7 separate regions of the Homo sapiens genome follow, and regions 1, 3, 4, 5, 6 and 7 are each linked to region 2. The links come from fine-mapping of genetic effects on gene expression. A gene starts in region 2. Each other region holds a variant in brackets. All regions are shown on one strand. Distances are between the middles of the regions.

Region 1 (4,067 bases), 110 kb after region 2:
TTTCCTTTTGGAAGACTTGTTTGCAGAACAGATCTATCAACTCAACATGGTTGAGGCAGGATTGGTGGAGAGGGTGGGGCACAGGATGGTAGGGATGTCAGAAAGAGATGTGCAAACAGAGAAGCCTCAGTTCTTCAGCCCATTTTTCAGTTGTGACAGTCCTGTTATATGCAAGAGGGTTTGTGCTAAGTTTAATGGAAATTTTTAACCAAAGAGAGCAGTTTCTGGATTCAGAGAGACCAGGGATCAAGACTGGGCTAGCTGTGTGACCTTGGGCAAGTGACTTCATTTTTCTAAGTCTGTTTTGTCTTTTATGAAATGAGGATAATAATAGCACTAACCTCATGGTCATTGGGAGGATTGAGATAATGCTAAAAGCATCCTTAGCACAGGGTCTGGTAATTTAATAAAGGTTTAATAAATATTAGCCATATGATTCTTATTACTGTGAACAGTTAAGAAATAGTAAAGTGATACATAATGGGTGAGTACGAGGCATGAGAACACAGGCCAACGTGATGAATTGCCCCATGAATAGTGCTGTGTATAACCCTCTCCAGGCCAGGTGTCATGCTCCCACCTGTAATCCCAGCTCTTTGGGAGGCTGAGGCAGGAGGATCGCTTGAGTCCAAGTGTTTGAGACCAGCTTTAATGAAACCCCAGTTTCTACAAAAAATACAAATAAAATGAAAAGCTGGGCGTGATGATGCATACTGCACTCCAGCCTGGGCAACAGAGCAAGATCCTGTCTCAGAAAAAACTTCTCCAGCAGTTTGGATGAGGTGAGCTCACTTTGAACTAGAGAGTCTGGGACAGAATCCTCAAAGAGTGGTGCCTGGAGTTGAAGTTTGGGTGAGGCTAAGTTCTTACAAGGAGAGCCAGCTGTTTCTCCTTTCCACAGAGAAAAGAACAAGAGGAAATGACTTTTTCAGTTCTCCATTCTACTGAACCCAAATGGTAATAAACTTTTTGATGGAGTATCCAAGTCTGGAGTCAAAGCCTAAATCAGATTCTTTGGGTCACTCATCCCAGCCACCCTGGCCACTTTCTATCTGTAGGGTTAGTATGTACCTGGGAAATACAAATTTATTTAAATAGTAGCCAATGCAAAGGATGACTAGGAAGGTAGATGTTTTATGTAACTGAGTCTTGTAATGCAGTCATTATTATAAGTGGCCTTTCCATTTAAGACATGTCTTTGAAAATAGACTCTAGTTTAAATGTTAGCAGATAGACTTTGAAGTAATTATGAGGAAGAACTTGGGACTGAGGATGGTCAAATTCTAAAACACAGTATTGGATCCAAAGACAGGTTTCTCCACCCTTTAAGAATAAATCTGTCAGGCCAGGTGCGGTGGCTCACCCCGTAGTCCCAGAACTTTGAGAGGCCAAGGCAGGTGGATCACCTGAGGTCAGGAGTTTGAGACCAGCCTGGCCAGCATGGCAAAACCCTGACTCTACTAAAAATACAAAAATTAGCCAGGTGTGGTGGTGTGCGCCTGTAATCCCAGCCAGCTATTTTTGGGAGGCTGAGGCAGGAGAATCGCTTGAACCTGGGAGACAGAGGTTGCAGTGAGCCAAGATCGTGCCACACTGCACTCCAGCCTGGGGGACAGAGAGAGAATTTGTCTCAAAAAAAAAAAAAATCCATCAGAAACGTCTCACCTCAATATAGCGGCCAATGTTGTCCCATGTAAAAGTCAGGGCACATGGTCTA[T/A]TGATATGAAAACCATAAATCAGAATATTTCCCATTGAAACTGCCTTAGGCACAGCTTGCACATTGTAATATCTCTCAAGGCAAGAAAATGACCTTTCAGAATAGACGTATTCTAGCTAAATCCCCAGGCATCCCAATCAACAATTCTGGCTTCCCTAAATTTCCATCTGCCAGAGTTCGGGCTGATTCTGGGAGTCTTCTTGTTTTGAATTCTCAATGGGGTGTTAGTGCGGTTTTTAACACCCCTCTCCAGCCTCACCCCTGATGTGGCTGCATTTTGGCAGCGAGGAAAAGTCTGGGTTAGAGGTTTGGGTTTCATGAGCCCTTCCAAGAACAAGAGCAGCTAAGCTGACACAAGAGCACACTCTCCCTAAACAGTCTTTTCTGCCACCTCTCCCACTGATTTTATGTAACCGAGAAGAATTAGAAAAGTGTGAAAAAAGCAAGACTGATGTTTGCTGGTTCTTTGAAGAACCTGCTTGCCAATGTTCTTATAAGTGCTTTCAGTCTTTGAGTGTTGGGGTGTGTGTGTCGAAGCAGGGGCCATTGATTCATTGATTTATTTATTGAATAAATGTGGAGTGCTCTGCCCAGTACTGGGCTGTATACTGGGGTGGTCATTGAGTAGGTGGTTTGTGTCTTGGAGATCTTACAGCAGAATGAGAGAGGAACTGGGCAGGTAGTTCTCAGGCAACGCTTTTAGAGGGGTGATGGTGGAATCTGGAGTGCTGGGGGCATGTGGAGGATGGGCACACAATTAGACCTAGGAGAAAATGATATCCAAGTTGAAATCAGAAGTGGGAGCAGGCAGAAAGGGCAGTTGAGGATCTAACGTTCTTGCCACCACCACTCACTCCATGCCCTCCTGCCTCCTCAAACTCCCTGGGAGGACTTTTTCTCGGCAGAAATAAATGCTCAGAGATGAAGTTTCCGGAAACCAGAGATCAGTTATCTGCAGCCGGCCTGAGACAGGAAACGCACATTTTCCTTCTCTCTCCAACCACCCTGCTTCTGTTCTTGTTGGGAGGGGGGAGGTGGTGTGAAGAAAACCCCAGAGATTTTCAAGGAAAGAGGAGGTTCCAAGAATTGTGTTTGATCTCTGACAGGTCTGAGTTGAAATATCTTCCTTCTGAGTCAGTTGGTTGCCTGAAACCCAAAGGGAAATCCACCTCCGATTTTTCCATCTCTTTAACAGAGTGTTGACTGTAAGAGAGGGGGACCCACAGTAGGGGGGAAGAGCTGGGAGGGGACGGGAGGAAGGTGAGCCTGGATCCAGCTCACAGGCTGATGCCATAGACCAGTCCCAGGCCTGATGCCACGAGGTAATGATAACTGCAGACACTTGCTTAGCCTTTTAGTATATGCCAGGTTCCAAGTGCTTCATATGTGTCAACTCTTTTAAAACTCCCCACACCCTGTGAGATAGATACTGTATCCCTGTCTTACAAGGAGGAAGTACAGATACAGAGAGGTGGAATAACTCACCCAGAGTCATGTAGCCAGTAAGTGCCTGAGCTGGGATTTGAACCCAAGCCTCCCACATGCTTAAACCCTTAGTAAGTGGGCTGCAAGAGCCACACAGAGCTGGCATTATCCAGATTTGGGCTTGATGTACCTGGACATAGGTTCATGAATAGATCATGAGGTAAGGGGGGCATTGCCCTTCTGAGGAGCCTAGTTTTGGAGGGATTAAGATGAGGGCTCTTCTTGGTCTGGGTGACTCTGCCTGATGATGTGTTACTACCTTGTACCTGCTGTGGCTGAGAAACAGACTTGGCTTTCAGGTTAAGAAGGGTTGTTAGAAATGGCAGATTGGAAACCCATGGGGTTGGCGCATGTGGTTTGGCCTAAAAGTTGTTTAGAAATCTGGACATCTCACCTAGAACTCCAGGTTTCCGGCCTCTCTGGAAAGGTCAGATCTGGGCACTGGACTCACGGTCTGGTGTGGAGCCTGTCAGGGGAGCTGAGGCCTGGCTGCTGGCTTTAGAGGGACTTTCTTGGTCCTTACAGTACACACTCACTTGCCTCCCTTCTTTGCCTGCCTGCCCCTGTGGCATGGGGGGTACCACTGCCTGATTAGGTTGGCCTCCATTTGAGTTGGGATCTACCAATGTATGGCCCCTGGCAAAGCTCTGAGCATCGATCTTATCTGCAAAATGAGGATACACTCCTACCTGTGAGGCTGTTGGAGAATTTGAGATTCTGTGTGCAGACTGCCGAGCATAGTGTGCCACATAACTAGGAGCTCAATAAATGCTCTTCGTCAGTTTCCTCCATGTTTCTCACTATTCCCACTGCCACCCACTAGGATGCCGACACCCGAAGGGTGTGAGTACTCCATGTCCTGAGT
Region 2 (4,067 bases):
TTCCCACTTCAGCCTCCTGAGTAGCTGGGACTACAAGCATGCACAACCATACCCAGCTAATTTGATTTTATTTGTTTTAGAGACAAAAAATATGTTTTGTCTCTAAAACATATGTTTGCTATGTTGCTCAGGCTGGTCTCAAACTCCTGGCCTCAAACGATCCTCCTGCCTCAGCCTTCTGAGTAGCTGGGATTACAGATGGGAGCCACTGCATCTGGCTCTGCCTTTTTGATTATAGTGATCCTAGTGGGTATGAAGTAGTATCTCATTGTGAGCCGTCTTGTTTTGAAGTTGCATTGGTATATCAAACACATTTTGTAACTGGTTCTGTCTTTTTGATTATAGCAATCTTAGCGGGTATGAAGTGGTATCTCATTGTGAGCAGTCTTGTTTTTAAGGTGCATTTGCATAGCAAACACATTTTGTCACTTACGCTACTTTGGTTCATTTGAGGTAACTGATGAAGGTTATGGAAGCTTAAATAAACTCCTATTCTCCCCTTTGGTTTCACTACTAAGTCCTGGCTGCCTTCTTTGTCAGAGGAATGCCTGCAGGAGGTGGATTAGGCCCAGGGTCCTGCAGTCCTTTAAGGAGAGCCCTTGCCACCCTCCTGTTATTCCCCTAGTTTCCCTTTTCCTCACCTTTGTCTCAGTCCAGAGATGAGGGTGGGTTGCAGGGGGAAAGGGCTGATCAATCTTTTTGACTTTATGCCCCCTTTGTGGCTTTGACGTGGCCTGATCAGCTCACCAGTCGTCTTAGTCCATATGGGCTAATATAACAAAATACCATAAACTGGGTGGCTTTATCAACAACAGAAATGTGTTGCTCATAGTTCTGGAGGCTGGGAAGTCCAAGACCAAGGCATTGGCAGATTCTATGTTTGATGAGGACGGTTTCCTGGTTCACAGATGGTGTCTTCTCACTGTGTCCTCAAATGGTGGCTGTGGGCAAGGGAGCTCTCTTGGGCCTCTTTATAAGGGCACTAATCCCATTCATGAGGGCTCCACACTCATGACCTAATCACCCCCCATAGGTCCCACCTCCAAATACCATCACCTGGGGGTGAAGATTTCAGCATATGAATTTGTGGGGGACGCATACACTCAGACCGTAGCGCAAGTTGGGGACAAAAGCTCTGAGTGTCAGCAGGGTTGCACTGGCTTGGAAATGCTGGAAATCTGGAAATTTCCAGATCAGGCATCACAAACTGCATGATCTAGGGCTCACATTGCATTAACAATGTTGTGTTTGGTCCACAGTGTTTCAAAATTGGAAAACTCGACATAAAAAATCCAGCCTTCTGGCTTTTCTTTAAAAATGTGCAGGCCCAACCATGCTGTTTCCACCTTTCTGCATTGCAGTATTTGGCTGAGGCTGAGCCCTGGCTGCCCTCTGAAGACTGGTGTGAGCTTTCAAATCCCCACAGTTCCCGCCACACACTGTTGCATCACAGTGGGCCCTCTCCACACATTTGTCACCTGTCTCATACTTGAGAATATTTATTAGTGCCCAATTCCTTCAGGGACCTAACAGGGTGAACTTAGGCCATAGTAGGTAACAGGGCTAAATACAGACACTTGGGATCCTGGCTTTCCAGCCATCCCCATACCATCTCCTCATGAGTACAAGCAAGTTTCAGGTGTAATGTGGGCATCTAATTTGTGATTTGTGGTTCTTGATCACTTTTATGGGCCAGCCACTGTTCTAAGAGTTTTGCATATATTAATTCATTTAATCCTCCTAGGAACCCAATCATAATCCCGGTTTACAGATGGGAAAACTAACACCCAGAGAAAACACTTGCTCACAGTCCATGGGTAATAGTTGCAGAGTCAGAATTTGAAGTCAGGAGCGAATGAGGTCATTTTGCAAGGTTGCTCATGACCTAGTGTCTGGTTCATTATGGGGGTTCAGTGGGTGCAAGCTTTATAATATTCATCTAGTCTTGCCAACTGCTGCTAACGTGCTGCATGGCTGAGGTTTAGTCCCAGCCAGATGTCCCATCACAAAAGTTAGGCATTGAAGTGGATGACATTTGTGTTTAGAGAAATGATATGTCTCATTCTTTTCAGCTCTAACTTGGGGTAAGTTTCTGAAAGCAAGTAAGAGAAAAGGAGAGGGACATTTGTGATCTCTCATGTATAGAAGACTAACAAAGAGGCAGGTGGTCACACCTGAAGGCACGTCCCCTGACCCTTATTACATAATGCCATGGGCTAAATGTCCAAAATTCCTCTCCCAGCTCTGATTGGCCTGGCTACTATGATGAGTGAAGTCCACCAGGGAAGACACTGTGGCCTCGTTTCTCATCCTCCTGTCCCCAGGAGTAACACAGAAGCAGCTAGTAACACAACAGCATTGTCCTCACATACACAGGCCTGCTTTGTTTCCCCACCACACAGAGCAGCCGCTGTAACAATGGCCCCGAATGACACTTTACCCTCCTTTCTCCAATGTTGCACTTGTTTTTTTAGTCTGGAATGGGCTAAACAATGATTTCCTGCAGGGGGTATCAGCTTTTTATATTTTCTGCCTGCTTCTCTGTCAGTCTTCAGGCCCCAGGTCAGTGAGTGGCAAGCCAGGCCCAGAGATCTCTGCGCCCGTTGGAACATCCCCTTCTCGGGAGGCTGGAAGGCCATGGTCATTCACCTCTCCCCAGCAAGGTGGGACCTGCCCTGGAAGAAGAAACCAGACCAGGTAACACAAGAGAGACAATGAGAGCTTGGGGCTAGGGGGTGGGGTTGCAGGGGATGGCTGAGTATCCAGCCCAAGGAGGATGGGTTTCTGGCTTCAAGACATCCGATTTTCTTGAAAGCCACCATCTGCTGTTAAATAAATAATGAAAAGCAACAGAGGTCAAGTTCAGCAGCCTCCCAGTTAGAAAAATACCCTCTGTCTGTCTGGCCCTGTTCAGTGCCTCTGATATCTCTGGGTGACCAGGGTCTTCATGGCCCATGTAGATTTACTGAGGTGGCTGTTGCCTTAATAATAGCTGCTAGTACTAAGCTCTTTCTCTATGTATTGCATATGTATACCTATTACTGTATGTCTCTCATTGAATGAATAGTAATGATAGCAAACCCTTATACAACATGCCTCAGATTCTTGCTTCTTTCAAACCCAGGGAGTCGGGTTCTAGAATCTGCGCTTTTCGTCATCATGCCCCTTGTAAAGCATTTTTTTTTACAACATCCTGCTAATAAACCAAGGTCATCACAATATTTCACTTTGAGAGGCAATGATATATGATGATAGCTATGTGTATTGTGAGTCCTTTGCCCTGTGCCAGGCAGCATTCTAACTGTTTTGCAGCTATTTCATCAGATAGATACTTTATGATCTCTATTTTATGGATGAGGAAATTGAAGTACGGATAATTTAAGTCATTCACCCGGGGTCACACAGTTGTTAAATGGCAGAGCCTGGATTTGAATTCAGTTTTCTCTTAAGTAGTATGGGAATCTTAGACCCGCCCAGCCCTGCTGGTCTGGAGTTATTCTGCTTCTCTAGGTCATGGTGTATAGAGGGTGACATTCAGTTTCTGGCTTCATAGAACATCTGCACCCAAGTTGACAGCTTAAGGAATTTTTTCGTTTGTTTATTTTAAATGATTTTTCTATTGGCATCAGCTTTTGTCTTGCTTGAAGAAGATGGAATTGCTCAATGACGACAGTGAAGGAATTTGAAAGGGTAAGAATTGCTCAATGAGTGGTATCTCTTTTTTGGCCAGAGACCAGGCTAAGTTGCCTCATATGTAAGAGAACATACGTCAAATACACAGGACTCATGGTATATTATGGAAGCAAACTTTATTTTTGCCTATCATTGTCCCTAATTTTTTTCAGCAGGTCCTCCCTCTTCCCTTGCCCTGGGATGAAAATTAAGGTAGGTCCACAACTCTTATGGGCCCCCTTCAGGAATCAAAAGTTCTTAAGTCGCTTTTAGTTCCAGCACAGCCTCATTCAGCAATTGGGATGTCCAGTCCCAGGGAATCAGCCAGATCTTTGAATTTGGTTCCCAGTGGAGACTTTTCTCCCTCCTCCAGTGGGGCCTGCAGCTTGGAAAGG
Region 3 (4,067 bases), 67 kb after region 2:
TTTTCTCTAACCACCAGAGTTATAAAATATAACTCAGCAAATGCTTAGAGTGCCTACTATGTATAAGGTACCAAACAGGAAAATGGGGACGAGAGATGTCAGTTTTGCTGATCAAAGCCTGTCACCCAATAAAAACCCAAAACAGGAAACCATGACAAATATCTGACTATCTGGTGTGCAGCCATTTGGAACACAAAGGGGTATGTGCACATGTAACATCGCACATGTAACACACACACCCACATGCATGCAAGCCATCAGCTCAAGGCGTATGTGTGTGCATGCATAAATGCATGTGTGTGTGTATGTTTAGGGTCAGTGTGGAATAATAGGCTGAATAAGAGGGTAAGGTTTTATGATATACACCCAGGGGGAAAATCTGTGTAAGTCATGCTTTTATCTTGTTAGGTATATGTTATTACTCAAGAACACTTACACCTGGTGATCCAGCAGCTCAAACACACATACATGCACACACTCCTAACTTGATATCACCCTGGTGTACACTAATTGTCTTAAGCCACTCATTTGATTCAAGAAGCAAGTATAACTCTACAGCAGCAGTTCTCGACATGTGGTCAGAGACCCCTGAAGTTGCCTGCAGGAACTGTGAAGTCACGCAGGGCCCCATGCTCAGAGCTCAGTTCAATGTTCTGCTGTGGCTGTCTTGAAATGCTTTATAACTTTTGGACAAGAAACAGCACTTTCACTTTGCACTGGTCCCCACCTATGTAACTCATCTTAGTTGCTTGAGATCCTTTTAGGAGGTCCATGAGCTCAAAACTATTTTAACAAGACTAACAACATTAATATATTATTTGCCTTTTCTACTCTGATTTTCACACAAGTATACAGTGGAGTTTTCCGGAGGTGACATGGCATTGGTATTGCAACAGACTAAGTGCACAGCAGATACGAGAATCCAGATCTCTTAGGCCAGATATTCAAGAGATTTGCAGAAATAAAAAACAAAGCCACTTTTCTTGCTATATATACCTTTTGCTTTTGGAAAATATAGCTATTTTTCATAAAAATACATTACTTATGTTAATTTGTAATGGCTTTTAAAATTATTTTTAAATCGATTAATAAATAACCAAGGATTTTCTCAGTTTTAGTTTCTAATATGTTAAGTATCAACAGATATAACTTATAAAAACAAAAGACTTTAAGGCTCATAATAATTTCTAAGACTTTAAAGGGTTACTGAGTTCAAAAAGTTTGAGTCACTGATCTCTAGGTATTTACTGTTTCTACCAGAGGAAAGAAATCATTGTGGGAATGTGATCAAACGATAGTGTGTTTGCTTATACTTGTTCATTTATGTGGGCAAATCAATGTCTACTGAAAAAAATGAGGTAAAGAGACAACCTTTTTCATTACCCTTGGACTTCTGCAGAATTTTCCTAAGTGTGACCTAACACAAGTCACTTGTTTTTACTTGTTTTTCTCCTTTGTTTTAGAGCAGCAGGTTCTAGGTTATATCTAACTCTTGTGGTTTTCTAAAATGGAATGGCTGTTAAAGAGAGATCGCGAGCCTCTCTTCCCTCGAGGGGCTTGGGAGAGGTGATACAGACGATTCCAGCATGAGGCACAGTTGGATAAAGTGACCTCTGAGGGTCCTTTCAGTTTGGAGGATGCTAGTAGAGAGAGTCTTTTCCCTTACCAAGTTCAAAGTCGGGGGGTGCTGAAGTAATAACAAATGAGTACATAAAAGGCAAAAAAAAAAAAAAAAGACATTCTGTCAGCACGGAAGCAGCAGGCAGTCACCAGAGACTCCTGCCTTCCATTGGCGAACCGGTCACCGGCTCCGTCCTGAAAA[C/G]AGAACTTGCTCCGAGTGATGTAGGCAAGGGAGAATGCTTCTGATGGGAGGGCAGGGCAGGGTGGGTATGGGAATCGCATGCTCTCATTCTTATGACTCTGACTCACTGAAACGGATCCCTCCCTTCCCTTTTTGAGGACCCTATTCCTTCACTTTTAGCACCAAAGTGCTGACGTGCCTTTTCCCCACTTGTCTTTAGAAAATCTATCTTGCAAGTGAATGCTAAGGTGCTGGGCTATTGACAGTTTCACACATCACCCTTGGCGGGGTGGGGGTGGGCGGACGGGGGCGGTGGTTGGTGGGAAACAATGACAAGGAGAACCGGAGACAGTATCTTTACCCCAGGAACAAATCTCCAAAAAAGGACGTTTTAGACACTGGGCAAGCAGAATTGACATATTGGGGAAAGAATGTTTTTCTAGCACTTCTCACACCATGCCTGCTGTTTCTGTTTGAAAGCATAATCAATTATGTCTGTCCTCCCTTCTTCTCTCCACCCATCTTTCCTTTCTCACTTCCACTTTTCCTCCTTCCTTCCATAAAAGGTCTTATGGATTCTCTGTTATAGCCCAGGAATTGCTTAGATATTGGGGATTCAAAGATAAATAATGTGCTGTCATTGATTTTATAATTTGTGAGTGGCGACAGACAGGTAAACTGATCACTGTAACAAGAGGAGGCAAATGCTGCATGGGTGGGGGCTGGGGGGTGGTGTGTGTGCTGAGTGCTTGGGCAGCCTGCCTGGGATGGAGGAGCAGGGCAGCCCTTTGACCTGGCTCCTGCAGGGGAAGTGGGTATTTCTAAGGGGGAGAAAGAGAACAAGGTTCTCCAGGCCCAGAGACGTTAAGTCGTGCACCCAGGTTCACATGGCTATGTCACTGGACCAGGCCTGAGCCTGGTTTGTCTCTGCACCCTCGACCTGTGTGCAATAACTACTGCCTTTCCCAGACCACAGGCATCTCAGTGTGCCTGGGCATAGGATGAGGTGAGAGGGAAAGAGTGGCCGGGAATGAGGCTGTGGTCAAGATTCCACACACCATTCTTTGCATCATACCAGGAGACAGAAAGAGAGGCAAATATTTATGGACCAGGAGAAAAGTAAGCCCAATTCTTTGCTGTTAACTTACATTCATGACACAAGTTATTTAAAATATATTCCTGGAGTGCTTTCGAAGTGTGAGGGCAGACATCACTCCTTGACCTCTGGGAGCTCATATCTTTCTTTCCAGATTAGCTGGGGACAGATTGACTGTACTAAGCAGAATTCACTGTTAATAGCTCAATGCCTTTTCTGCAGATGCTGTGGTTACAGCTCCTCACCGCTTCCTTAGAAGCTCTTTTGCCCCTTCTGATAATAAATGACCTGACTCTTGTCTTTTCTTTTCCCCTTCCTCCTGACCCGCCTTTGAGAGATGAATCAACCCCCGGGCAGGTTTCCTGCAAGGAGTGGAGGAAGGGCCCCAGCTCCTAGACCAGCAGAAAAAGCAGGAGTTGACTGATTTCTGCTAAGCTCACTTGACAAAGGGATCTGGTCCCCTTTACCTACCAGTCTTTCTGTACCTGCCTGACACTGGCAAGGCACTTACTCTTCCAGAAACAGCTGGGCCAGAGGAAAATGGCCCACCCCTCCCACAAGAATGCCAAGAAGCAATCGGCTGTTAATTTCCAGTAGGACGAACAGGAACCCTTTCAACCAGGAAATCTAAATTGAACAGTGATTAAGTCATTCAAGCTCCATGGCCCTGTTTAATTTCCAGGTCTACAGATGGCTCTGCCTTCCTCTTAGAGACCATTTTTAGCCACTGGTCTTGGGAGGGTATTTCACTTTTAAATAAGGCACCTGCATGTTCTTGTCAGGCTGCACTCTGTGGTGGTTAAACCCACAGACTAGTGGGGGCAGAATGTCCAGGTGTGAATTTCAGCTCTGCCATTTGCTGTGTGACTTTGGGCAAGTTACTTACCTCTCTGTGCTTCAGTTTCCTCATCTGTGAAATGGAAATAATAATAATTGCACTGGGCTCATAGTGTTGTTTCATGTTTTAGGAGAATTAATGAGTTGACACTTGTGATGTGCTGAGAGCTATGCATAGTAAACATTTTTGGGGGTTAAATTAATACACATATTTAACTATCCAACTGTGAATGGGACTTGCCTTTGTCCTTTCCTTCTCTCGTGAGGTCTGTCATTAGATAGAGGGAATGAATTTAGTAAAGAGGTTAAATGCAGAGATTTGGGGATCAAATT
Region 4 (4,067 bases), 130 kb after region 2:
GTGAGCACATTGTCACCATGAGCTGTACCATCAAGGGCTGCTTGACGGTGTTTCTCTTCTCCCTTCTCCCCAGGCGGCTGTTGAAGAGTGAACTTGGATCATTCATTACAGACTATTTTCAGGTAAGCTGTGTGGATCTGAGCATCCATCATTATCATGCATGTGGGGGCATGGACCTAAAAGGGGTGGCCAATACTGTACAGTTGGACATTCCTTCAACAGACAAAATTACGTATCTCAAGTCCCTGCTGTGTGCTGCACGTTGCAGAGGGGCACCACTCCTGTGTCTCCCAGCAGTTAATGGAGATCACAGTCTCATGCAGCAGTTCTCAGGCATTTTGGTCTCAGGACCCCTTTACACTCGTAAAACGTATTGCTTATTTGGGTTATGTCTATCTTTACCATAATAGAAATTAAACCTGAAGAGCTTTAAAATATGTCTTAATGTATTTAAGTAATAAGCCTATTACATACTAGTGCTAATTACATTTTTATGAAAAACAACTCAGAATAAAATAGAAAGGAGATCTCTGCATTGTCTGGCTTCATAGAAGACAGTTGGATTCTTATATCTGCTTCACTTTCAATTTGTAATGATATTGCATGCCACGTAGTTTTGGGAAAATTCCACTGTAAACTCGTGGAGAATGTAAGGGAAAAAAACAAATAGCTTAGTATTACCGAGAAAATAGTTTTGACCATGGGGATCCCTTGAAAGAGTTTGGGTAGTGGGGGTCCCCCAGGGGACCCTGAATCATACCACATCTGGATCCATTGTCTGGATCAGTCAGACTTCTCCCCTGTCTATACATTGTTGGTATAAAGCTAGTGAGTTTAAGGTTCCAGGACCAATCAGAGGATAGTTTCTAATTCACAGACGCAAGCTGTTTTCATGACTCTAACCAAAGGCATATGGTGGAGAGGGAATGGGGAGTGTTGAGTGACAAGGAGTCACTGACTGGACGGCACCTTAGTGAAGTCAGAATCCCTACTTCTCACTCATTTGCTGAGTGGGCAAGCTGTTTCACCTCCCTGTGCCTCAGTTTCCTCATCTGCGAAATGGGACTAAAAATACAACTTACCTTAAAAGTTTATTATATGCTTTATGTGAAATAACACATGTAAAGCACTCTGTACGTAGTGTGTAGGGGGGCAGTATAGGGTAGTGGTCAAGATCACAGCCTTTAGAGGCAGAGTGCTTGGGTTCAGTGCCCAGCATAGCCACTTACTAGCTATGTGACCTTGAGCAAGTTGCTTTACCTCTCTGTATTTCCTTTTCTGTGAAACAGCAGTAATAGGACCAAACCTTATAGGGTTGTCGTGAAGACTAAATAAGTTATTTATAAAAAGTGCTCAGTGACTAGCAGAGAGTAAGACAGTAATAAGTGCTTATTAAGTTTATATAAGTGCCTATGTGTTATTCTAAGGTGTAATCCATCTCTTTTAATGGGAAAGTAGCATGAAATGCCTAACATCTTGGTTTCAAGTTAGCAATGTTATTCTGTGTCCAAATAGAGCATACTTTTAAGACAGTTTAAAGAGATTTTAGGTTTTGAAAACAGTACAGGCATCCTTTTATAATTTTTCTTTATGAGATTCAGGAAGCTTAAACTTTTATGTGCACTTTAAAAGAATGACATGTCAGTTGTTTAAACACACACACACACACACACACACACACACACACACACACACACGGACAGCTCCTCTAAATCTGGACAAACCAAGACCCAACAGAAGCCTGGAATTCAATCGGGTCATATGTCTCAGCTGCTTGGAAGACAGCTCCTGTTCAGGGAGAGACAAACATAAAGATTAAGAGAGAGATAATTAGTCACAAATGTGAATCATTTCAGTCACCCTTGACTCAAAGGTCAGTCTTGGCCTCACTCTCTTCTCTTGCTGTCTCTACTGATTGATTTTTTTTAAAGCTAACTACAGAGAAGTGGTTTTTCAGTCAGTCCTGGAGAAACCTGCTGGGTTGAATTGCCTTCCTCCTTGACATTTAAAAGCTCCATGGTTTGGTGTGGTTTCAATCAGGTTTTAAATGTCATTTGTCTTTTGGTGCTGGGGGTTACCCCTAGGACAGATAGGAAAGGGTGTTTGGGTGGGGACTTGTTTATCTGGGAAGCCTTGAGGTTTTTGGGGGCGGTTAATACTGCTTACGAAGCATGCCAGATGCTTAACAACTAATAACCACTTGTCATTTCCTACCGGGAACATAATCAGAAATGCTGCTTTGTGAATACAGAATCTCTTGCTGGGGTGTGGGG[C/T]GAGAACTAGTTTTCACAGTTTTAAATCGAAGTTTATTTAAGGTGCTGATCTGGAAAGAAGGCTCTCCTAGATACAGTTTTGTTTTTTTCTTTTTTTAATAGATTTTAAGTGTCATGTGGGCACACAGCTTTTTTTTCTTTCTTTTTTAGTCTTTTGGTTCCCCACTCCCTACAAAGTTCCTGGAACAAAGTAGATACTCAGTAAACCTTCCTGGGAGAGAGGGAGGGATTTTCTGCCACAGATCACTGAAATGATTTTAGGCGATGCGTGCAATGACATTAAATAACATTAGGGCTTGTGGTTAGAAACTGCTCTCCTCTTTTATTTTCCTTTCGCCCTTGGGATTGTGCTAGAGAGGATCTTGAGTTGTACCATGGTGTCCTCTCCCCTCCTCCAGGACTTGGAAATCTCCCTCGTTTGAAGAAGGAGGAGCAGTCCTCGAACTTAGTGTCTTCAGCTAGGGATGCTGACTAGTTAGGATTTCTTAACATTATTTTGTTGGCATTGAGTTGATCATTGAGTTCCATTCCACTTAGTGTAAATTATGTTGCTGTGGTTTCTGTTTTAAACGTATTTACTTGTTTAAAAAGTGGATTGATATAAGAAAAATAGTATGCAAAGAATAATCATGTAGGTGGCCCTGGCTCTGGCCCTAGTCATGCAGGTGGTTCAACAGAGACTCAGATTTGGAAAGCCCATTACCAGGCACTGCTTAAAAATGGGCTGGTTTCAAACCATTCACTTTACAGAAGAAATCTCCATATAAGGAGACACGTCCCAGAGGGAAGGCTTGTAGAGGCGAGCTTAGCCTTCACATTTGACTGTCAGATGTCGTTTCAGGAGGGAAAGTCAGGAGGAACTCCAGAAAGTGTGTTCCTCCAGTAAAGGGGCAGAAGGAAGGCCTGGAGACAGATGAGGAATGGAACCCAGGGGTGGACAGGAAAGTCACCAAAACCATGGACCTGGCTGTTGGGAAAGGTGAAAGATGGGCTTCCTGGGTGCTGGGCTCTGCATTGCAGAGGCTCAGATGGCCATGCCTAGACATCTGCATTCAGCAGTCAAGTCTGTCTCCTCACCCTGACCCCCAACTCTGAGCTTGCCACTCATACAGCCCTTTCTGTGGCTCTGCTTTTGAAAGCGAACATTCTCATTTACATTCTGTGAGTCTTAACACAGAATGTCCTGAGTGGGGAATAATGAAAATGACCCCAGGTGAGGCCAAGAGAAAGCAGGTAGGAAAATTGTGCTTATCTCATGCCTGCACACAGAGAAGACAAGCTGTGTGATCTGCAGAAGCCCAGCTACACGTCCATAAGGCACTGGCTGGAAAAGTCTCTGACATTTCCAGTATTGATTTTTTTCCCTTTCCCTCTGTTTTGAATTGTGTCCGGAAGGAAAATTGGGGTTTCCGAGAGAAACACTATATACTAGTAACAGCTCTGAGGGATAATTGGTTTCTTGTAATTTTTGAAACTGATGATATGAAACGTTCTGGATTTTCCTATTTACCTCATTAGGTATCTTGGTGGTTCAGAGCATGGGTGTGTTTGCAGATTGCACTTTCTGCTATTCTGTATCTACTGGCTTTGTTTTGTGTGTTATAAGCTTTTGCCCCAAGCCCAGAAAGTTCAATTCCTTTTGTTGGAACTGGAGTTTTGCTTGATATAGAAACTCAGGCTAGAGTCAGTGGCTTTGAATGGGTTAATACTAGGAAGAGAGGAAACTTAGCTACTACCGTTGTCAATAGGTCATGGATACCTGGTAATGTGTGAGATACATTTGTGTGCATGTAT
Region 5 (4,067 bases), 23 kb before region 2:
TTAGCCAGCATATGTACCTTGTCTTAACCATTCCTTCCTATGAAAACCCCAATAAAGGCTTGGGGCCATGCTCTCCCCTCTCCCTGCCTCCTGACCAACACTTATCCTTCCGAACCATGTGGCCCCGTGTGCCACACCTCCTGCTTCTAGAGCTCTATGAGCACAAACTTCTTCCTTCATGATAATCATTTCCACGTCTGTGTGCCTTATGTCTTACCATTCCTGATTAAAACAAATCCTGAGAACAACTGGCATAGGTAGCAGGGTGGTTTGATGCCAGATGGACATGGAATGTCCTTAGACTGATCTTGACTTGCTACCTGCTCCCGACAGACAGCAGCCACTGCTTGGCAAGGTACAGCTGAGAGTGGAGTGCTCGGGCTTCCTGCTTGATGGCTACTGCATTGTGTTGTGTTGTCAGGTGTTGCCGTTAATTCCCAACTTGAAATTGCGACGCTCGTTCGAGCAGCTGAGTCCCGGAGCTGCCTCATAGGCTGGTGTCATGTGTCTGGGACTAACCTATTTCTCCACGGTGGTGGAATGCCCAGGATTCAGGACAGAGTGCCTGGGGTTACATAAGTAATTGGCTATATTTTTTTCTCAAAAGGTCCCTCTGAAGGGGACCAGGAGTGACTGACTATCCTCCTCATGCCAAGGGCAAGTCTGATCCACTGACTGAGGAGCACTGACAACACTGGGGTCATCAGAGTCATTTAGATGAAAGTGCCTAGTGTCTAGGATGTGATAGCTCCTGAGGACACTCATAAACCACTTTCCCTTTTCCCTCTGGGCTTTGCTGAGTCAAATTTCAGCCTCTTCCTTGGAGTACTGCGAGAGCACTTGTCGGAACGCTTGCTCCTTGCTCGTGCATGTGTTGAGGGCCATTCATGGGATCAGTGTGAAGGGCTCCTCCAGGGATCACGGCATCCCACAGATGTTCAGATCACACACTTCTCTGCTGTTGTCTGATTGCTGCTGTCATGATTTATTTCCCAACCCAGGGGTAAATAAGAAGTCCCCTCCCTAGAGACGAGGGACTCAATGTTTAATGATCAACGGGAAGGAAAAAGAGCACCTGTTTCCAACTTCCCCAAAAGCCCCAGAGAGATGGTCCTTCCCCATGTGGCCCTACGTGGCATGCCATGCCTCCTGTTTCTAGGGTTCTGTGAGCACAGACTTCTTCCTCATGACAATCACCTCTGTGCCTGTGAGTCTTGCCATTCCTGATTAAAACAAATCCCGGGTACACCTTAACACAAGCCTGGTCCGTCCTGATGAATACATAAGGAGGAAGAGTGGGAATGGCATCAGGTACCAAGATTTTCTCATCTTCTTCCCAACCTCTGGGGTCTAGATGGCCTCTCCGACTGCAGATGAGCTTTCGGTGTGGCAGGAAGATGGACCTCATCATCACTGGCCTGGCTGTCAGAGCCTAGAGGCAGGAGGTGGTCTCAGAAATTACAGCAGAGAAAGCCCCAGGGACAGACTCAGATTGGCTGATTGGAATCATGAACATTCATGAGACAATCGCTGTGGCACATGCATTTGATCAGGATTGAGGCAGATGCTGACCCCTGTTGGTGGGTGGCTGGGTGGGATGTGTTGGGCAGCCAGCACAGGCACCAGTGAGATGGATCATTGTCCTTCTGTGGATGGAGTTTGGACATCCAAACCTTGCCACACCCTGAGGAAGGACAGTTTGTATACAGCTGCTTCATCACACAAAGTACTACTGGGAAACCAGACAAGCAGTGAATGAGCCAACTTCCTTTGAGATCAACAGATAAGAGCCAGGAGGCCCTTCTGAGATAGGGCCAGGCCAACCAGAAATACGGTATCTACAAACAATCCATCATCACTAACAGAGGAAAACAAATGCCTTAAATGAT[C/G]ACGAGGTGAAGGGTAGCAAAGATTTATTGACTTTTCCAGTTATTTATCAAATGCCCTCTGCGTCATGTACCCAGATGGCTCTATTCGGACAGATCTGGCTAGAGGAAATGTCCAACTGCCCAGACACCTATACTGGGCTTCTTGCTTCAAGTAAGTTTCTTATGGATGCCCATGGGAGGCCAAGAGGAAGGTATCTGACATCTCTCTCTGCAGGTCATGGGGAATGGAAGGAAAGGAGAGGGGTAAATTTGTGACAAATCTGAGCTCAACTGGAGGGTATGACCAGGGGCTCTCAACTTGGAAGTAGCGGGCTGGCTTCTGGGGTCCTTGACCTCTTGTCGTTGCATGCAAAAAATTGAATGTTCATTTCCTATAGCAGATAAAGAAGAGCTTGGAATTTTTTTTCCCTTGACCTTCCTCGTATCTCACTGGGTAGGCAGACGTAAGATCTCTCATCTCTACTTCAGTTTCAACATTTTCCAAATGGCGCTAGTCACAGAATTATATGTTCCTTGCAAAGTCCTGTGTTGTAAAGAGAAAGCTAGAGAAATATGGGTCCACCTCTTAATGAGACCATTTACCAGCAGATGACTCAATCTCAATGAGCTGGTTTCCTGGTCAATAAAGGGAGGATGATAATACTAATTCTCACACCAACTCTGTTATAGTAGATGAGACAATAAATGCACCAAGCTTTCTACTCTCATCCATTAATAATCAAAGCCTTTCCTATTAGTTGTAACAGTACTGTTTTTAGGTGCATTATATCATTTAATTTTCACAAAAGTCCTATCAAGTAGGTACTACTATTATACTCATTTAATTTAGGAAAAAAGTACAAAGTGGGTGAAAATTGAGATGTAGAAGTCAAGCACCTTACCACTGAGAAGCAGAGCTGGCTTCTGACCTTGGCTGCCTGACTCCTGACAGCATATTCTTAATCTGTGGATTTACCTCCTCCATTCACTCCATACACAAACTAGCAGAGAAGCTGCCAAAACAAAGCACTCCAAGAGCAGGCTGCAAGCTGTTGCCATGGAGATGATCTGGTGAGTGAAGGGGGAATCTTCACACATGGAGTCCCTGTGAGGCGTGAGGCACATGACAGAGATGATCTCATTTGGTTAAACTCGAAGGAGTGCCTTCATCATAGCTCTTGTAACAAGCACATACTGATGATTAGCCTTGCTTCCTTTTTATTTATTTTTATTTTTTGAGACGAGTCCTTCTCTGTCACCCAGACTGGAGTGCAGTGGCACGATCTCGGCTCACTGCAAGCTCTGCCTCCCAGGTTCACGCCATTCTCCTGCCTCAGCCTCCCGAGGAGCTGGGACTACAGATGCCCGCCACCGCGCCCAGCTAATTTTTTGTATTTTTAGTAGAGATGGGGTTTCACCATGGTCTCGATCTCCTGACCTCATGATCTGCCTGCCTCGGCCTCCCAAAGTGCTGGGATTACAGGCGTGAGCCATTGCGCCTGGCCACCTTGCTTCCTTTTGTTCTACGTAACAGGTGAAAACACAGAAAGTGGTGCGATTCAATTGCCTGATTTCATGTCACACCATGGGTCAAGGGCTTAGCTGGGAATTAGGAAGTTGGGATCATCTTTAAAAACTAGAGAAGGTACTGGCCAAAAGCTTCAACTTGGGGACAAAAGAAGCTACAAAAATCATGGAAGTTTTAGAACTGTTGTTTAGTTCCAATTATTCCCACTTCTTCACCTAGGAGTGGCTGCATTAGATGAAGGAAGAGGGCCCTGGTTTCATGAAGAAGGGAATTAGCACCCATTTCAGACTTCCTACACTGAAGAGGGGTTCCAGTATGGTGGAGGGGGCTCAGGGAACACTCTGGATGGACCATGCTCTGTGGGCTCTGCCTGGCTTCCCTGACAGAGGAGCAGGAACTGCTGGCATCACCTGTCCGATTCCCTCCATGTGTTCTGGGATTGGAAATGAACTAATTAGAGCTAATGTTGGAAATAAACTTACTTATTGGATAGGCTGCATGATTTGGGCCTGAATTTCTCAAACAGCTATGCAGAGGCAGCTGACGATGCAAATGTTCCCTCACCCTGCCATGGTGGTAATTAAGTTGCACTCAGGAGCTTTTCAAAGATGGGGGCTTCTGCTCTCCAGCTTCAGAAAGAGAAAGAAGATGAGTGAGAACAGCGGGGGATC
Region 6 (4,067 bases), 160 kb after region 2:
GGTGTTCCTTAGCCCAAGAGGGATCCTAAGCCAGACATTTCACCCCATGTCTCTGGATACTAAGAAGCTAAAATGGTCACAGCAGTGCCCATCCTGACTGAGGACACTGCTTTCCAGATAAAGAGAGGTCTCTCAGGGCCTCCGTCTACCCCTTAGTAAAAGGTTTATTTTGCCTGTGGGAGGAGAGCATTGAGATCGCTGGCTGAAGTAAAAACTAAGGAGTTGGGTTGGGGGTGATAAACCCCTTTACCTATGGGAGGGCTTTGCCGTGGCTCACTTGGGCCGGAGGATAGGTAGGCGTGGTCGTAGGCAGCGGAGGGTGTGGGGGCCACTCATCCCTTCAGAAGCCACCACTCACGCTGGATTACTGACCAGGGTTTTGGCGCGTAACTCATTCCATCCTCCAAGGTACTGTTGTGCTTTCAGTCTCCAGGTCACCCGCAGGGTAGGTGACCAGAGCCAGAGAAGCGGTTTATTCCCGGGGCTCCGCACTGCACCCACGCGCCCGCGCCTGTGTTTGACTGCACGAGGATTCTCCGGAGGTGTCCCTTCCTGCCAGCCAGGCCTCACCCCTGGGTACGCATAGGTCAGAGGCCCACGATGAGAGTGAGAGAGAACGTGCCGCTCTCTCCAAAGCAGCCACTTTTCTGCAACAGTGGGAGTTGCTGAGGGAGGAGGAAGAGGATAGTGAAACTTTTTTTTAAAAGGCCGACTCCTCAGAGGCTGGCCTTTGCCCCATCTTTCAAGTCCCCGAAGTCTCCAGGCTGTTTCCCTGATGTTTGCAGGGCCCTCCCGAGCACACACTCAGCAGCACGCTCGACTTCTCCCACACAAAGGCCCTGGCCTCCCACAGGCCTCCCTCCATTGTGTCTGCCTGGGGGAGGGCCCTTCTCCTTCAGGATACTGTAGCTTCTCTGCGTGACAAGCCAGCATTCACGGCTTTCAGGTGCCAGCCTGGAGAGGGACACCCACCACGGGCTTGGTGTGCTGGGGTCACAATGGCCTTATTATGGCGGTCGCTCCGGTGGGGCCTGGCCAGGGAGCCTGGGAGATCAAAAGCCTGGGAACCAAGTCCCCAACAAAGGACCCGAGGACGGCCTTATCCAGGCTTTGCATCTCTCTGGGGGTTTGAAAGGAGCTGCTCTTGCTGGCTCCGGTGCAGGGGATGAATGCCAGTGAATGCCAGTGTTCAGCAGGGCTCCTGGTGAGTGAGGAGGGAATAAAGCCTCCCCTTGGCCTCACCCCGTGTGAAAGGGAAGAGGAGGAGGCAGAGGTGGCCTGGAGATGCCAGCTGAAATGGCAGGACCCGGCCCTCTTCCCGCTAAAAGGGCACCACTGCAAGGGAAGGGCTGGTTTGGAGCCCCAGGGGGTACCCACAGGGTAATCAGTCCCTTAGTGGGAGATTCCCTTCCCTGGGTGACAGGGCCCTGCCTTCCCGGGAGCAGAGAAGAAAAAGATTGGGGAGGAGAACAAGAAGCAAGAGTGTCGGTCGCTGTCTGCCAGCCCCGGGCCTGGCGTTCAGTTTTAAGGCCTCCCAAGGGGCCCAGCAGGCCTGACCTCCCAGTGGGGACACAGCTGACGCACTTGTCTGAGGCTTGGCTCTGGAGTCTGGCGGGAACTTAGCAAGGAAACGCTGTCTGCCCGGGGGACTCAACACAGCCTTGCGGTCCCTGTGGTCCTGGCTCTGCCCACACCCAATCTTGGGAATGAAAACATTCCACCCAGAAAGTAGAAGGAAGAGCTGTAGCCTCTCCTGTGAGTCATCAGCAGGGGGAGAGAGGCTGAGGCAGCTGTGGAGAGAGCAGGGCCTTGGAAACCACGAGAGCTGGGGCTCAGCTGTGTGGCCTGGAGCAACTTCTGAGCCACAGAGGGCTGAGCACAGAGGCCCTGTCCTTCCATTCAGGATCAGCAGGAGGAAGAAGCTGCCCTGTCTCAGG[T/G]AAGGGCCAGGTAGAGCTGCCTGCTATGTTATGGACGCCCAGCTAAAGGTGGCCTGGCGTCCGTGGAATCACTCCCCGGGGAGGTTGTGTGTACCTCCCCAATCCCTCCCCTGGATCCCAAACCACATCCTTGGCCTTGCCTTGCTGTATTGCCATGTCCTATTTCTCAGCCTCTCCCTTACACTGAGCTTGCTCGTTGAGAGCAGGGATTTTGTATCCCAGGACCTGGCACAGACCTCTCCTGTGAGTGAGTGGTTCAGTCTGTAAGTCAAGCCTAGAGAAGCACAGCCCATCTGAAATAGGCTTTGTGACTTCTCTTCCTTCTCCTCTGAATTTCCAGGGTGCTGTCGTCTCTATCTCTGACCTGACATTTGCCACACTGACCTGTTCTAACAGTTATTTGTGTATGTGGGTCACAAGCTGGGCCTGTGCTGTCAGCTCTGGGTTTGAGTCCTGGTTTCATCACTAACTATGACTGTTGTTATTCCACATCTCAACTTCAGGTTCTTCTGCGAAGTGGTTAGAAGCCATCAGTGGAGCACCTCCTTTTTGGTACAGTACCTAGCATATCATGGATGCTTAGTAAATAGTTCCTCCTAAGAACTCGTGCCCCTGACATGTGAACATACATGCATGGAGGTACACAAGTGTGCTGGGCTCAAGCCCCTGTTGGGGGCCCCACATCAGATTTATGTTTCTTTTCTTCTCTGCAGCTAGTGCAGCATTTTGCATGTACAGGTAGTAGTGTTTGTTGAAGGTGGGGACAGGTGGTGTTGTGGTCTCCTCCTCCAGGGCAGCCCCCCTCTGGCTCCAGCTCTTGGCCTGTGAGCAGCCAGAGTGGCTTCTCTTGTCCATTTGCTGCCTGGGCCCTCCAAGGATCACTGGAGACACCTTTCCCTGGCTCATCCCAGTGGGCTGGGACCTGCGGAAATCATCTGACGAATTCTCATTTCCTACAAAGATGCTGCATGTGTCTGCCAAGCAAGTTGATTTCCTGTTCTCTCGATTTACCCTCTGTCTTCTCTGGTCCCAGCCTTTCTTCCAAGTTTCAGCCATGTTATAAAATCTAACATTAATACTGTATCTTTCCAGATACCCCTTCCCCAAAGAGAGGAGTCTCCCATACTCTTATAAAACATTATCGAGGCCGGGCACAGTGGCTCATGCCTGTAATCCCAGCACTTTGGGAGGCCAAGGCAGGCAGATCATGAGGTCAGGAATTCGAGACCATCCTGGCTAACACGGTGAAACCCTGTCTCTGCTAAAAATACAAAAAATTAGCTGGGTGTGGTGGTGGGCACCTGTAGTCCCAGCTACTCTGGAGGCTGAGGCAGGAGAATGGCGTGAACCCAGTAGGCAGCGCTTGTAGTGAGCCAAGTTCGCGCCACTGCACTCCAGCCTGGGCAACAGAGTGAGACTCCGTCTCAAAAAAAAAAAAAACAAAACAAAAAACAAAACAAAACATCGAAATCTCTAGCAACATTAGAAATAATGTCACTACTGTCTACCTCTTTGACCCTCCCCTTTGCACAAACCCCTCCTGGCAGGTAGGTACCCAGTCTCAGAGGCCCAGACATCTGCATGAAGCAAATGCTCCCTAAACAGGTCTCGTCCTGTCTCCTGCTAGACTGGTTGTAGGGTTCAGGTCCCCACATGGGTTTCCCAACAGCAATCTGAAGTGTGTACTTCTATCAGCAGTGAGAGAGAAATGAATTGTTCTCAAGGGCATTTTTTTTAAGGACAGTTTTTCAATGGGATCCTTGCTGCTCTGAACTCTTCTGGTGCTTCTGTTTTATAGTTATTGATTTTGGAGATCATAAAAGTAATACAGGTATTATAAGAATGTGGGAACATTATAGAAATGTGTAACTTGGAGAGTACGAGCATCCATGCTTCAGAAAGAACCGCTGCCAATGCCTGGTGTATTCTTGGTTGCTCCTTGGCGTTTTGTCTCTTATCTCCAAAGAGGGGCGCCAGTGTCAGCTTCTTGTGTAGCATCTGCTGGGGGGCAGTGTTTGCTATTACTTGACTTCAGTGGGTGGGCTGCTTCAAGGAACATGTCTTCTGAGGGCAGCAGCAGTCACCTGAGACACAGCAGCGTGTAGTGGGGAAAGTCTGGGCACTGCCATC
Region 7 (4,067 bases), 25 kb after region 2:
TGGTGAATCTGCGAAGTCCTGCCAGTTGGTGTTCGTTTGGGCTCATTTTCAACATGCCTGAGAGGGATGGATATGTGGAGCTACTGTTAGCTATGAATCACGATGGACATTTTGATGTAATTCAGTTTAATCTATTTGCTTGTCTAGCATCTAACTAAAAGTGCAAGTGGTTGGTGCAGAAAAGAAAAGGAGGAAATTTTGGAGTGCACAAATTTGTGCTAGGATAGGATTTCAGGGGAAAGGTTAGGTAGTGTAGGGAGACGGAGATTTGAGCAGCCATGGAGTATAGCCAAGGAAGGATCCTGGATATCTGGAAAAGTGAAGAGAAATTGAGAGAAAGTTGGATCACAGGACAGGTGAGAGAGAAGGGAAATGGGAGGGAAAGGCCAAAAAGAAGGTTTCAATTATGTGGCAAATGTCAGAGGCTTAAACATAACAAAGGAAGCTGTTCATGAGAGCTTGGCCTGATGAGAACTGATTTCCTTGACTTTTCTCGATTTTTTACTAGAAAGGTCCTAATACTAAATCACATATCAAGGCTTTCTTTAATAATAGAATCCATTAATACTCATCACTTTTTTCTCTCCTGATTGGGAATAAAATGGATTATTAACTGTTGAGTAGGCACTGTATGAAATAAAGGGGATAAAGGAAATTTAGGAGCAGAAGCAAGCACTCTGAGCTCCTGCAGTTAATCGTGATTGGCTTAAAGCAATCAGCAAGTCTCATCCCTGGGACCACAGTGAAAGGCTGATTAGGACCAGTGAGGGCCTGGCCCAAGACTTTTATTTGCTGGTGGACAGGATGAAGCTGAGAAGATGTGGTTTGGAGTTGATGCAGTCATCTTATTACCACAGGGAAGAGCCTGAGAATAGAGCTAACACAAGGAAGAAAGCAGACAGAAGCCAAGAGATGGACGGATTGGGTTTTAGAAATGTCATCTGAGTCCCTTGATCTAGCGGCACCTGACTTTTAATCTACCTAAGTCAGGGATTGGCAAACTTTGCCCGTAAAGGGCCAGATAGTAAGGGCTTTAGGCTTTGTGGGTCATGTCGTCTCTATCACAGCTACTGGTCTCTACCATTGGAGTACAAAAGCCATGGGTGATACATAAACCAATGGGCTTAGCTGTGTTCCAGTAAAACTACTTACAAAGGCAGGCAGTTGTGGGGAGGGCTTGGCACAAGAGCAATACTTTGTAGATCCCTCATCTAAGACGACACTAAATTTCCTTTTTTTTTTTTTTTTGCTTAAGTGTATTTGGCTTGGGTTTCCTAACACTTGCAACTGAAAAAGGCCTTAAGTGTTATAGGTTCTTAGGTTGTGGACAATGGAAATCGATTCCAAATTCCTTGGGGGAAAACAAAGATTTATTATCAAAATAAAGCATAGACAAATTACAAATTCCCAGGAGAGAAATTTCAATTGTTGTGACTGAAGTCGCATGTCCAGGGGAGGGGGATTTACCAGCCCTCTCAAGGCTGCACGCAGGAGGAAAGAGGTTGTTTCTGTAGGGAAAATTAGGGGACTCTATTAAGACAAACAGGTACTGGAGGCTGGATCTACTCCATTAAGACAGGAAAAAGTTCCCATATCAAGTGTATTCAGCAGGTGCCCTGCAAATGCAGTTCATCAAAGGCAGTCTTGTGTATTAGAAAAACATGTTGATTAACAAAGACTTGTGTCGTCGTACCTCTGCCCCTACTGGCTGTGTTGCCCTGGGCAAGATAAGAAATGTCTCT[G/A]GGTCTCAGTTCTTCAAGAACAAAAAGAAGGTGATGAACTGGGAATCTTTTTTTTTTTTTTTTTTTTTTGAGATGGAGTCTCACTCTGTCGTCCAGGCTGGAGTGCAGTGGTGCGATCTCGGCTCAGTGCAATCTCTGCCTCCCGGGTTCAAGCGATTCTCCTGCCTCAGCCTCCCGAGTAACTGGGATTACAGGTGCCTGCCGCCACACGCAGCTAATTTTTTTTTATGAACTGGGAATCTTTAAGGGCTCTTTGAGTGCCAAGCTTTGGTGGCTTTTTCCATGTATTCATCATCTTGCCTGTTAATCTCTGAGACGACGCTCTGTGCCCTGTGGCTTATCTTTTTGTATAATTACTAGCTAGCTGTGGGACCTCCCTCATGTTACATAATGTCTGTGAGTGTTAATTTCCTCATCTGCTGTAAGCCCTACCTGGTAAGGTGGTGTACGGATTAGAGCTATGCATGCTACTTGCTTAGAAAGGCAGAGTGTGAACTGGTATAGAGTAGGTGTTTCAGAGTTAGATGATCAGGACTCAATCTTTGTTTAGTCTTTTTCTTACTGTGCAACATTAAACAAATTATTTAAATTCTTGGAATCTTTGTTTCCTCATCTGTAAAATGAGGATATTTATAGAACCCTCTTGAGATTGTTGTGTGGATTAAATGAGATACTGCATATAATATGCTTAGTACATGGCTTGGCATGTGGTACTCTGTAAAGAGAAATTGTTATTACTTGTAATGATTTAATTGGTTTCTAGAAATAGGCTCCTGTTAGAAAGAAAGTTTCTCCTATTTTTTACAGTTCTTATTATGGAATTTTAAAAAATAATTCTTTGAGTTTTGATGTTGTTGTTTGCTTTTAGTTATTTCTGTAAAGTTAAAAAAGTAACAGAGGCCTATTTTAAAAATATTTTATTTTCTAACCATTATAGTAGGATGCATTCAGTTATAACAACAGGCTTAAGAAAGAAAAGGTATTTATTGGCCCATGTAATTTGCTGCGCTTAATACAGCACTCAATAATGTCCTCAGATTGTTTTCTTCCTCTCTGCACTCTGCCTTCTGTAGGGATCATTTCCTGGTAATATAGTCTCAACTCATGATCACAAGATGGTTGCCAGTAGACCCAGGGCCTGCCTGCTTCCTCCTCCAGATCCTGTAGAAAGAGTAAAGGGGCTCTCTCAGTAGCTTTTTCAGAAAAGCAAGAAAGTTTCTTTTCCATGAGCTTCTAGCATATGTCCTCTCAAGGCTCATTTGCCCAGGTTAGGTCATGAATCCACTGCAGAAAGAAATTGTGTCCCTAGAGGTTGGGCATCAACTAACATGTCTAAAAGGACCTGGACCCATCTCTGAAGCTGGCTGGCAGTGCCCATACAGCATGCCTGAGAATACAGAAGCAGCATGCCCTGAAAGAAACAAAGATTGGCAAAGGTTAGGCATCAGCGTGGGTTCACCGCCTCTGCTTTAATCCTCCGTGTTGTCGCTAAGTCCCTGTATTAATTTGCTGGGGCTGCCACAACAAAGGACCACAAGCTGGGTGGTTTAAACAACAGACATTTATTTTCTCACACTGTGGAGTCTAGATGAAGTGCAAGATCAAGGTGCAGCAGGGTTGGTTTCTTCTGAGGCCTCTTCCTTGGCTAGTAGATGGCCATCTTCTCCCTGTGTCTTCACGGGGCCTTCCCTCTGCAGGTGTCTGTGTCCTAATCTCTTCTCATAAGGACACCGGTCATATGGGGTTAAAGCCCACTTATTTAATGTCGTTTTATCTTAATTACTTTTTCAAAGCCTCTGTCTCCAAATATGGTCATCTCTGAGGTTCCTGGGACTTAGGACTTCAACATATGAGCTTGTGAGGGATGTAATCAACCCATAACAGTCTCCCCAGCCCTCAGGTCTACTCCTCAGAATCACTATTTTGAACAGTTTGTACATATCTATAATTCTTAATTGTTTCAAAAATGTTCTTTGAAATGAACCTACATTGACTGCTTCAGAGATTAAGGCAGCTCTTTTATCAATGAAATTATCTCAGCAGTCAGAAAATCTTCTGTGTGCCTGACAGTTTTTCCCTAGAAAGGGCTTAAAGTAGATGTTACCAGTAATTCAGGGTATCTACTTTTTTAAAGTATCTCAGTAAAATATCTCCAACAATATGTACACCATAAATTCTTGGTGAGCCTCCCAAAATGAATTTTATAATATATACAACACCAGAAAACAGAATGATTTATGGTTTAGAGTGAACTGTTGTAGATATTGTTTTTATCTGCCTACCGTACTTTGGTCATACCATTTCTTTTGGTTTCTTTGGGGAATT

Which allele goes with the higher level. Positions count from the first base shown, and alleles are read on the strand shown. Sizes are in standard deviations (SD) of each study's normalised expression. Not every link is listed here.
For the expression in pancreas of the gene that starts at base 2,547 in region 2, allele C in region 5 goes with a higher level than allele G (small effect, 0.33 SD a copy in GTEx).

The links.
Region 1: its variant is fine-mapped to the expression of PRR5L in whole blood (TOPMed, PIP above 0.99).
Region 3: its variant is fine-mapped to the expression of PRR5L in monocytes (Quach 2016, PIP 0.95).
Region 4: its variant is fine-mapped to the expression of PRR5L in whole blood (TOPMed, PIP above 0.99). The same link has a PIP of 0.9 or more in blood mononuclear cells.
Region 5: its variant is fine-mapped to the expression of PRR5L in pancreas (GTEx, PIP 0.96).
Region 6: its variant is fine-mapped to the expression of PRR5L in whole blood (TOPMed, PIP above 0.99). The same link has a PIP of 0.9 or more in blood mononuclear cells.
Region 7: its variant is fine-mapped to the expression of PRR5L in whole blood (TOPMed, PIP 0.99).

Annotation. Positions count from the first base shown.
Region 1 is chr11:36,406,650-36,410,716 of GRCh38, forward strand. All of the region lies in intron 3 of PRR5L (proline rich 5 like), which reads left to right. Among named protein-coding and RNA genes, the nearest start is that of TRAF6, 100 kb to the right of the region's middle. The variant T/A (reference allele first, on the strand shown) is at 1,718.
Region 2 is chr11:36,293,742-36,297,808 of GRCh38, forward strand. PRR5L (proline rich 5 like) reads left to right here and starts at 2,547. Exons shown (of 9, transcript NM_001160167.2): 1 at 2,547-2,697.
Region 3 is chr11:36,360,340-36,364,406 of GRCh38, forward strand. The region is part of intron 1 of PRR5L (proline rich 5 like); the gene reads left to right. Among named protein-coding and RNA genes, the nearest start is that of PRR5L, 66 kb to the left of the region's middle. The variant C/G (reference allele first, on the strand shown) is at 1,823.
Region 4 is chr11:36,419,182-36,423,248 of GRCh38, forward strand. PRR5L (proline rich 5 like) reads left to right here. Exons shown (of 9, transcript NM_001160167.2): 4 at 74-122. Among named protein-coding and RNA genes, the nearest start is that of TRAF6, 89 kb to the right of the region's middle. The variant C/T (reference allele first, on the strand shown) is at 2,274.
Region 5 is chr11:36,270,396-36,274,462 of GRCh38, forward strand. COMMD9 (COMM domain containing 9) reads right to left here. Exons shown (of 6, transcript NM_014186.4): 6 at 1,897-4,067. Among named protein-coding and RNA genes, the nearest start is that of COMMD9, 17 kb to the right of the region's middle. The variant C/G (reference allele first, on the strand shown) is at 1,890.
Region 6 is chr11:36,454,243-36,458,309 of GRCh38, forward strand. The region is part of intron 8 of PRR5L (proline rich 5 like); the gene reads left to right. Among named protein-coding and RNA genes, the nearest start is that of TRAF6, 54 kb to the right of the region's middle. RefSeq lists an enhancer at 1,009-1,533. The variant T/G (reference allele first, on the strand shown) is at 1,938.
Region 7 is chr11:36,318,451-36,322,517 of GRCh38, forward strand. All of the region lies in intron 1 of PRR5L (proline rich 5 like), which reads left to right. Among named protein-coding and RNA genes, the nearest start is that of PRR5L, 24 kb to the left of the region's middle. The variant G/A (reference allele first, on the strand shown) is at 1,743.